Linked DNA regions of Homo sapiens. The protein of the gene in region 1 interacts with the protein of each later gene in a biochemical or structural test. Each region holds a gene or a part of one and is shown in the gene's direction. Other genes may lie near its edges.

Evidence for each region.
Region 2: the proteins of POLI (region 1) and ERG form a complex in vitro, tested with the Homo sapiens proteins (one large-scale study listed by BioGRID).
Region 3: the proteins of POLI (region 1) and NEDD8 form a complex in vitro, tested with the Homo sapiens proteins (2 studies listed by BioGRID, with this or other methods).

Annotation. Positions count from the first base shown.
Region 1 is NC_000018.10:54,289,904-54,293,560, forward strand, and holds part of POLI (DNA polymerase iota isoform a (long)), read left to right. Parts: intron 1-1,929; coding exon 1,930-2,135; intron 2,136-3,657. UniProt on the Homo sapiens protein: Error-prone DNA polymerase specifically involved in DNA repair. Plays an important role in translesion synthesis, where the normal high-fidelity DNA polymerases cannot proceed and DNA synthesis stalls. Favors Hoogsteen base-pairing in the active site.
Region 2 is NC_000021.9:38,400,868-38,404,524, reverse strand, and holds part of ERG (transcriptional regulator ERG), read left to right. Parts: intron 1-815; coding exon 816-1,019; intron 1,020-1,887; coding exon 1,888-1,968; intron 1,969-3,657. UniProt on the Homo sapiens protein: Transcriptional regulator. May participate in transcriptional regulation through the recruitment of SETDB1 histone methyltransferase and subsequent modification of local chromatin structure.
Region 3 is NC_000014.9:24,216,240-24,219,402, reverse strand, and holds the end of NEDD8 (ubiquitin-like protein NEDD8), read left to right. Parts: intron 1-971; coding exon 972-1,019; intron 1,020-1,187; coding exon 1,188-1,270; intron 1,271-2,179; coding exon 2,180-2,276; 3' UTR 2,277-2,546; downstream 2,547-3,163. Other genes in the region: NEDD8-MDP1 protein, read left to right, coding at 972-1,019, 1,188-1,270. UniProt on the Homo sapiens protein: Ubiquitin-like protein which plays an important role in cell cycle control and embryogenesis via its conjugation to a limited number of cellular proteins, such as cullins or p53/TP53.

The DNA of each region.
Region 1 (3,657 bases):
GTACATAAGCATGGGCAAAGACCTCATGACTAAAACACCAAAAGCAATGGCAACAAAAGCCAAAATTGACAGATGGGACCTAATTAAACTAAAGAGCTTCTGCACAGCAAAAGAAACTATCAGCAGAGTGAACAGGCAACCTACAGAATGGGAGAAAATTTTTGCAATCTACCCATCTGACAAAGGGCTAATATCCAGAATCTACAAAGAAGTTAAACAAATTTACAAGAAAAAAGCAAACAACCCCATCAAAAAGTGGGCAAAGGATATGAACAGACACTTTTCAAAAGAAGACATTTATGCTGCCAACAGACATATGAAAAAATGCTCATCATTGCTGGTCATTAGAGAAATACAAATCAAAACCACAATGAGATACCAGCTCATGCCAGTTAGAATGGCGATCATTAAAAAGTCAGGAAACAACAGATGCTGGAGAGGATGTGGAGAAATAGGAACACTTTTACACTGTTGGTGGGAGTGTAAATTAGTTCAACCATTGTGGATGACAGTGTGGTGATTCCTCAAGGATCTAGAACTAGAAATACCATTTGACCCAGTGATCCCATTACTGGGTATATACCCAAAAGATTATAAATCATGCTACTATAAAGACACATGCACGCGTATGTTTATTGTGGCACTATTCACAATAGCAAAGACTTGGAACCAACCCAAATGTCCATCAGTAATAGACTGGATAAAGAAAACGTGTCACATATACATCATGGAATACTATGCAGCCATAAAAAAGGATGAGTTCATGTCCTTTGCAAGGACATGGATGAAGCTGGAAACCATCATTCTCAGCAAACTATCACCAGGATAGAAAACCACACACCACATGTTCTCACTCATAAGTGGGAGTTGAACAACGAGGACACATGGACACAGGGAGGAGAACATCACACACCGGGGCCTATCTGGATGGAGGGCTGAGGGAGGGATAGCATTAGGAGAAATACCTAATGTAAATGAAGAGTTGATAGGTGTAGCAAACTAACACGGTACATGTATACCTATGTAACAAATCTGCACATTGTGCACATGAACCCCAGAACTTAAAGTATAAAAGAAAAAAAATTAGGCCATTTTCAAGTTTTTCTTGAATTTTAATTTCTGCTAGGCCCTCTTTATCTCCCCATGATGTGCATGTAGCCCTTTCAGTAAGGAGTGTATGGGGAGCTTGGGCCCTCTGTGGCCTTCCATTTATTTGCATGTAGCCTCCTAGTCAACTAGGGTTGTACGGGGAGCCTATGTAGTCCCTCTTTGGTTCTCTCATTTCCAAATCTCCTGGTGACATATCTGGCTGGTCCACTGATCTGTCCTTCACCCGAACCACGACTGAAGCTTCAGACTAGCAGAGCTGTGGGATCTTCCCATTCGTTTCCTATCAAATTTGCTCATTTTACTGGCAACACTGCTGAGTGTGGGCTTTTGCCCACTGCCTCAAATCAGGTCTGTCCCCTCTGGAAGTGAAACTGCTGGCTTTTGCAGCCTTCACCCTGTACCAACTGAGCTATGTAAAGGGACATTCGAACAGTCCCAGACAGTGAAGCTGCTATCTCCTACTTTCTTAGCTAACATATAGCAGCTGTTCATAGATCAGTACTTCTCACTTTGTTTGCCTTTGGTTCATTTCCAGATTTCCACCAAAATGATTGTTTTTGACAATGTTGTTCAGTTTTATAGTAGCTTTTTGAGAGAGGATTTTCTGACCATATCAGTGTAGTATAACCAGAAATCCCATATTTCAAATCTTTTGAAAATTTTTAACCATTTAGTATTAATATTGAAATGTCTTAATTTGGTATATAATGTCAAGATGCCCAGTGATATTTAGGATTTTAATTTCTTAATCTCAGCAATATAAAATATATTATGCTCTTAATATTAATTATAATGTTTATTCTTAAACATTTTATTTAGGAAATTATGATGTGATGACCCCAATGGTTGATATACTTATGAAACTTTTTCGAAATATGGTGAATGTGAAGATGCCATTTCACCTTACCCTTCTAAGTGTGTGCTTCTGCAACCTTAAAGCACTAAATACTGCTAAGAAAGGGCTTATTGATTATTATTTAATGCCATCATTATCAACTACTTCACGCTCTGGCAAGCACAGTTTTGTAAGTACACTCTTTTTTGTTCAGTTTTCTAAGTATACTCTTATGGGATTTGTGTGGTTACATTACAAATCTAAGTGCTTGTCTTTTTGATATAGTTTAGAGATTCTTTTGGGTGATATTGTTTAGGTGATTAACTTGTTTATAATACCTATCTTATGGTTTCTGGCCTTAAATATGCTGTGATCTAAGAAGAAAACATAAGCATCACTGGATAAAAGAGAGAACCATTATGGAGGTTCTCTATTTTGGAATTGTTAACACATTTTATAGTATATAAAAATATGATGGATTAGCTCATAAGTATTAAAATATTTGCAGATATTAGAAATCACATCTTTTTGTCTTTTAGCTGACACATGAGCTACTAGTACCTTTCCCATGATTCTTTTGTTAAAGTATTTACATTTTCTTCATTTTGAAATAGTATTGAATTTTGATAGCAATATTGATAGATTTGACTACTGATTTCATAGTTGTAAAGTTAACAGTGTGGCAATAGAAAGGCAGAGGCCAGTCACATTTTCAGACGACTAAAACAAAACCCTTTTATTAATAGACAAACCACTATTTAGTAAATGTGGGTTGCCTTAAAAACAATTATTTTTTACTAAATTGTTCATGCCTATAATTAACTCAATTTAAAATACTTTTGTGTTTGTTTAGTCAGTATAATTTTAGTAACCTTTTCATTTTCATTTAAGTTTAAAGTGAGAACAGGATAGTGTATGGAAATAGTGAATTAATGCTCTCTTCAAATTACTTTTTTCTGTGACCCTTCTTATTCCATTTATTAAATTTAAAAAAGTGTTTTCTTTTTACATTTTAATTAATCTGTGAAATTGGAATTAAAAGTGCTCATTTATAGTGGCATTAGAAAAGTAAATATAAGTGAAAGTACCTTGTATGTATTTGTCACACAGTAGGTAGTCAATAAATATAAGGGCCTGAATCTTTTCTACTACTTTTACTTTTTTGGAGTTCATATTGTGTTGATGTTTACGGAGTTATATTTGACTATGTTTATATTTTTATGGTGCTTGAAACTAAAGGATTTAAATGAAAAACTGTATAGAAAAATTATGCAAGTTAGAGTTGAAAGTGTCTTTAAATTTTTATTTTATATAAATATAAACTAGTACTATATCTTGATGATGTTGGGTTTTGTTATAGGCTTTTTTTTTCTTTTTGTTAAAAGTTACCCTTTAGAATAGTAATTTTTGGAAAACTAGCCCTTGATGCTATATGTGTATGTTTTTTTGAAAAATACCCTTAGGTGAACTTGCTTTTCTAGGCCGCCATTCTTTTATTTATAGAATTGAAAGTTTGGTTGCATGATTGTTACAATCTTCCCAGGTCTCCAAATGCATATTTACCTCTGTCTCAGTGCTATCTAGGAAGGAAACCTCTTCCTGGAATAGTGGGTAGAGATTCACAAAATAGTGTGAATAATTGTGGTAGTAGATCTCTAGTTGTTTGGAACTGGCCACAAAGAGTTGTATTTGTTGAGTAGGTTAGAAACATG
Region 2 (3,657 bases), on another chromosome or scaffold:
ACAGGACATCCCGGCTGGCGTTTCTGTTGGAGATCACCTGCTCCTTCTCCCCCGGGCCCTGCTCTCCCTGTCCCATAGGTAGCACTGGAGTGTGACGACGTGGCCTGCATCCTGTGGGGTGTTTGTGCTCGCCATGGCCAGCTGTGGAATGCAAAAACCACTCACCAACCCCACTCCTGCAGGTGCTGGTTAATTGCAAAACCAAACACCCTGCAGGAAAAGTCTGGAACTGACAGCTCTCTATGAGGAACGCTGGCTCATAGGAGGGGCTAGAGTCTTGGTGTATCTATATTTCATTTCCGATTCTGTGGTCAGTATTTTTCAGTATTTTGCATAAATACTGTTATTATTATTTTTGTTGTTGTTGTGATCTGTAATTAGCACCTTCCTGATATGTGTGGCTTACTCTTATTTCCATATAAATATATATAAATATACCAGTAGTTTTCTAAGGAAAAGAAGTTTCCTCTTATTCTTACTCATTTTAAAATAAATAAATAAAATTGAACATAAATGAGAAAAAAGAATTTTTAAAATCTTATGCCTACAGGAAACTTTAGATTGAGCAAAAACAAGGGCATGTGATGTGAATAATCCCAAGATTCCAGAACTATTCACTTTAAAGACAATGATCTATGGATGTGAGGCAGCTTTTGTCTTTCCCCCAAAATGTTCTCCTGGGTAGCCAGGGAGGCTGGCTGGAGGCTGTGCTTGTGGAAGGCAGCTGGTCAGAAATCCCACGTGGATGGGGATCTACCCCAAGATGAAGATCCCTGGCTTCAGGAATTGACTGAATGTGTTCCCACCCCTTTCAGATCCTACGCTATGGAGTACAGACCATGTGCGGCAGTGGCTGGAGTGGGCGGTGAAAGAATATGGCCTTCCAGACGTCAACATCTTGTTATTCCAGAACATCGATGGGAAGGAACTGTGCAAGATGACCAAGGACGACTTCCAGAGGCTCACCCCCAGCTACAACGCCGACATCCTTCTCTCACATCTCCACTACCTCAGAGAGAGTAAGCTCCCCCTTCCTCCAAGGATAGATGGCTGTGGCTATGGTTCTTATGACCTGAGCTTCAGAGGGTTCAACCAGGTGTGTCGACAGCATCCTCCTGCCCTCGCCCAGTTCCCACTGGGGATCCGAGGGAGCCACATGCTTGGTATGTGATGACTTAGGGGAGCAACACCCTGGCCACATCACCTGATGAGAAGTAGTCAGCGCTCTCAGGAGAAGCCAAAATTCACTTCAACACTCAGCTGCCTCCTCCAGGGTCCTGCGACCAAGAAGATGGAATGTCAAAGGGGAAAGGAAGCGTTAACTGGTCACACATTAGTTAAGTCTCCATGATACCCCGAATCGAAATAGAATCATTAAGGCTTCTCTTTCGTAGGAATTAGGGGGATTATTCTCCCTAAAGCTACATGAAGCCCCACTTTATATTCTAACCTGAGCACAGAACAAGGGAAGTTTTCACTTTGTATCATGTGATTCGGCTTAACCTGACAGAAAGGGATGGCATGTTGGCATGAATCCAGAATGTTTGCTGCATGCTTTAATTTCTACAACGTCCAGCATGGTGAGAAGGAAGTAGTGTGACAGACAGTGAGGTGGATAAATTCTCCTCCATTGCTTTGCCTGGCATCCCAACCACTTCTTCCCTGAATTAAAGACGGGCCCCCATGTAGGTTTTAACATGCTAACAAGTAGCAGGTTGCTGGAAATAGTTATAAGCTTCCCATGATGTTAGTGTGGGAGTGGGGGAACGGTTTTCTTTCTTTCTTTTTCTTTCTTTTTTTTTTTTTTTTTTTGTAAGAAAGGTAATTCTCTTTCTCTCTCTCTCTTTTTTTTTTCATTTTGATGTCGCTTTTTGTTTTGTTTTGTAGCTCCTCTTCCACATTTGACTTCAGATGATGTTGATAAAGCCTTACAAAACTCTCCACGGTTAATGCATGCTAGAAACACAGGTAATGCTGGCCCCGCCCCTGCCTCCCAGCAAGAGCGTAGGGTCTTACGTACAGGTTGCATGCTTTCATGGGAAACCAGTCAGCGCGTGCCAGGAAGACAGAACGCAGGTAGATGATTCAGAATACTTTCGGATACTTAGGAATGTACCACAGCCTAAAGGAAGGTGAAGCCCTTTGGTTTTCTGAGCGCTTCCCAAGCACCCCACTTTGATTATCAAAGGGTTCCTTTTTAACCAGGAGACGTGCAGAATTTGCCTTTAGCCATAACTTAGCTCACATTTGCCGGATTACAGTCTTCTTCTGTTGGTCCCAATATATTCGCTGTGCTGACTCTGTAGACACTAAAAGCATGTTCGATATAAAAGGGCCCTTAGCAACCTCCTTTAATTTTTTCCATTTTTATTCTTAAAGAAATATTTGCTAGGATAAGTTGGAATTTTCTTTTTCCTTTCCAATAAACTTTTAGGCTATTTGATTTGTTTTCCTACAGACTTTGTATGTTTGCAAAAGGCAGGAGGGAATTTCTGTAACATTTTGAGAGCTTTTGTTCAGAGGGAACCTCTGCTATAATTTTGGAGAATATGAAATTAGTCACTAACCAAATGCCTGTTTTCTATCTCTAACCGTTGCCTCTACATTTGACTTAGTTATGTATTTATTTTGCCTGAGCCTAAGTAGGGTTTAACACCGTGCCTCATCCTGGCTAACCTTCCTCCCTCGCCCCCCGCTCACAGCAGAGGCTGGGTTTTCTGTGGATGAATGTGTTCCTGGTTCACATCCATCTGCTCCTTCCTGATGGAGAGAGTTCCGGAAGCATGGCCACCGGCTGCTCACCCCACTCTGTTAGCTGCAGGGACCCTCCACAATCACTCGGGCTAGGGAGGGAGACGGGAAGTGCCAGAAAGCCTTGCAAGTCAGCCAGTTAACTCACGATCAGCCCTCACATAGAAATACGCAATTTTCCCAATATTTACCATTTTATTTTAAAATATAAAATGTGAGTGAGTCCCGGTTTGAGTATTACAATGAAATTGCTCATTTATCATGGTCTTCTATATTCAACACATTGTCTTTTTAATCTGAAGTTTTAAAAAACCTGCTTCGAGTTGGTAGTACACTTTTTCAATAATTTTGGTTGCACACATCAGCCTATTAGTGACCTTGTGGCCAGAAATAACAGATAACTTAGAGGAAGTTACTTCCCCTTCTTAGGAAACACCTTTGAGCTATGCACATTTTCTGATAATTTCACATTTATTTATGAGTTCTTTAACCATTGAGTGAAAGTTTCAAAAAAGCTCCAAATATATTAAATTTTGCTATTGTTAAACACGGAAGAAACCAATGAACAAGACAACAAATTCCAAATGGACTGAACTATGAAAAGGGAATTTTCTCAGCTAACAGCATGAGTTTTGGTCAAAAGAGAGAGAGGGAAAATGCATTTGAATAGAGATGTGGATTAATTATTAATAAAATCCATATACTCTTAGGCTAAATACTTATAATTGCTTGATACTACTTTCCAAAAGCTCTGTAAAATATATTATGGGTTTTTATACAAGTTGAAAAATAAAACATGTACCATATAATTTTTTAATAAAACGAGATTGCCCAGTGGGAAGTGGGATTGAGGGGGACACAGATAGGGCTTCATCAAGAAGTTATAAAATCAAAACACAAAACGCT
Region 3 (3,163 bases), on another chromosome or scaffold:
CAAGTGATCCTCCCACCTCAGCCTCCCAAATAGCTGGTACTACAGGCATGCACCACTGTACTCAGCTAATTTTTGTTGTTGTTGTTGTTGTTGTTGTTGTTTTGGTTGAGACAGGGTTTCGCTGTGTTGTCCAGGCTGGTCTGGAACTCCTAGGCTCAAGTGATCCTCCCGCCTCAGTCTCCCAAGGTGTTGGGATTGCAGGTGTGAGCCACCATGCCCAGCCAATTCTAGCATTTTTTAAAAAACTGCTGAGATGATTTCTGGTGTCCTTGAGAATTCTTCAAATTATCTGAATATTAATTTCTAGCATTGATATTTAGAACAAGGTCCTTCTGACTTTTTTTAAGATATCTTTCAGGCTGGGTGCAGTGGCTTACCCCTGTAATCCCAGCACTTTGGGAGGCTGAGGCGGGTGGATCACCTGAGGTTGGGAGTTTGAGACCAGCCTGATCAACATGGAGAAATCCTGTCTCTACTAAAAATACAAAATTAGCCAGGCCTGGTAGCGCATGCCTGTAATCCCAGCTACGTGGGAGGCTGAGGCAGGAGAATTGGTTGAACCTGGGAGGCAGAAGTTGCAGTGAGCCGAGATTGTGCCATTGCACTCCAGCCTGGTCAACAAGAGCGAAACTCCATCTCAAAAATAAATAAATAAATCCTTTCATTGCCGTATCATCTAAAATAATGCCAATATTCTCACTGATTTTGGGGGACTGATGTTGGAAGATGACTCATGGAATTAAGAGGATCAGATGGTTCAAAGAATCTTGCCCTATCAAAGTTGTTTACAGCCTAAAAATATTTGATAAATGAAGGTATGTTCAAAGCCTTCTCATTCTCCAAAGCAGTGCTGCTGAGAATATGCATCTTTTAGAAGGCAGTAGATCCCAAAGACCAACATAGGATGTTTTACCTAGAAGACAAATTGTACATTGGGCTTTAAGGACTCATGAAACCATTGCCTGTTTCAGACGCTGACCGGAAAGGAGATTGAGATTGACATTGAACCTACAGACAAGGTGATGCATGCCCAACTCCTCTTCATGTACTTCTTGCCATGTGTATTTGTTTGCATATGCTTATGAACTTGGTCCTTTTGCTCTCATGCTGTCTGCATAGCCCTTGTTCTTTCCGTTTCCATGGTCCTACCCCTAAGCAGCAGCCCCTGACTACTTGTCTCTCTAAAGGTGGAGCGAATCAAGGAGCGTGTGGAGGAGAAAGAGGGAATCCCCCCACAACAGCAGAGGCTCATCTACAGTGGCAAGCAGATGTGAGTTTGGAGTGAGAATGACAGCATGGCGATCTTATGTGAAGATGAGAAGAGGAGAGGGGGCACGTACTGAGGTGGATCAGGGGTGCCTCTTGTTTTTGGTGCCTAAGACTCTTTGGCAATCTGGTGAAGCCTCTAAGCCCCTTCTCAGAATAAGATTTTTTCAGGCATAAAACAAAATATATAGAATTAAAGGAAAACTAATTATATTGAAATAGTTATTAAAATACTAAAACAAATTTGTGATATAGTAATATATGTACTTTTTTATTAATGCATAAGATCTAATGGTAGGTCTAATATGACCATAATTTTGAAATATTTTCAAGATACCTATAAATGATCATGATAGAAAATAGTTAATTGCTATTGTTAACAAGTTACCTATATTGCTAATACTACTGTGGTTTTTGGGCTATGTTTAAAGTTAGAAGAAATGTTAAATTTCAGTTGGGGGTTAGTAAAAATAAAGATGGGATTTTTTTTCTCATTCAAGTTCACAGACCCCCAAAGAGATCCAGGAAACTCAAGAACTCCTGTTCTGGCCGGGCGCAGTGGCTCACGCCTGTAATCCCAGCACTTTGGGAGGCTGAAGGGGGTGGATCACCTGAGGTCAGGAGTTCGAGACCAGCCTGGCCAACATGGTGAAACCCCATCTTTACTAAAAATACAAAAATTAGCTGGGCGTGGTGGTGGGCGCTTGTAATCCCAGCTACTCAGGAGGCTGAAGCAGGAGAATTGCTTGAACCCAGGAGGTGGAAGTTGCAGTGAGCTGAGATCGTGCCACTGTACTCCAGCCTAGATGACAGAGCGAGACTCTGTCAAAAACAACAACAACAACAACAACAACAACAACAAAAAACTCCTAAGTCTTCTTTTTCTTTTTTTTCTGGCTTCCTTTTCCTGCAGGAATGATGAGAAGACAGCAGCTGATTACAAGATTTTAGGTGGTTCAGTCCTTCACCTGGTGTTGGCTCTGAGAGGAGGAGGTGGTCTTAGGCAGTGATGGACCCTCCATTTTACCTCTTTACCCTGTCGCTCATAATGAGGCATCATATATCCTCTCACTCTCTGGGACACCATAGCCACTGCCCCCTCCCCTGGATGCCCAGTAATGTATGTCTACTGGTGGGAGACTGTGAGGATCCCAGGATTCAGTATTCCTGGCCCAGAGGGCCCTTGCTGGCTACTGGGTGTTAGTTTGCAGTCCTGTGTGCTTCCCTCTCTTATGACTGTGTCCCTGGTTGTCAATAAAATATTTCCTGGCCTCCTGGAATCTTTCTTCTGTTGCACAAGTTGACTGAAATAAAAATGGACCTAATGCTCACTCAGTTATAGCAGGCTGAAGGAATCGGACAGTGGAAGGAATGGTGCTCTTACGGGGATTATCAGACTCTAGGAAAACCTACTTAGTGGTGTGTTGGAACCAGTTCCTAGTGGCTAATGAGAGCCAATTATTGGCACCTTTTTCCAACTCTATTAAGTGACTTCATGTTGGTAGCTTGAAATTGGCCATGGTAGGATTATTTACAGAAACTAGCAAACACTACAGATCAGTTCCTCCCCACAAACTGGTTGTTATACATCTACCAGTGTAGTGCTGACATGGATGGTGAAACCTTCGGAGAGTGAATTCTCTCTTGACTGTGGCTGTACTGGACATTTAGGCCTGGTTGGAGAACGCCTTCAAGGGTTTGGCTGACACTGTACTCTATGGCTGGAATATTACTGAGGACTTTGGGTTCTACACTGTCAGGAGGTTGATAATGCAGAAAGATTGAGTGACAAGCTGTGATGTATCACTTGGGTCTCAAGAAGAGGCAGGTGCTAGAAGAAAAGGCTTTCCTTCTTCCCTGGCTTCTTAGTATAATAGAATCGGGCAAGGCTGGGTGG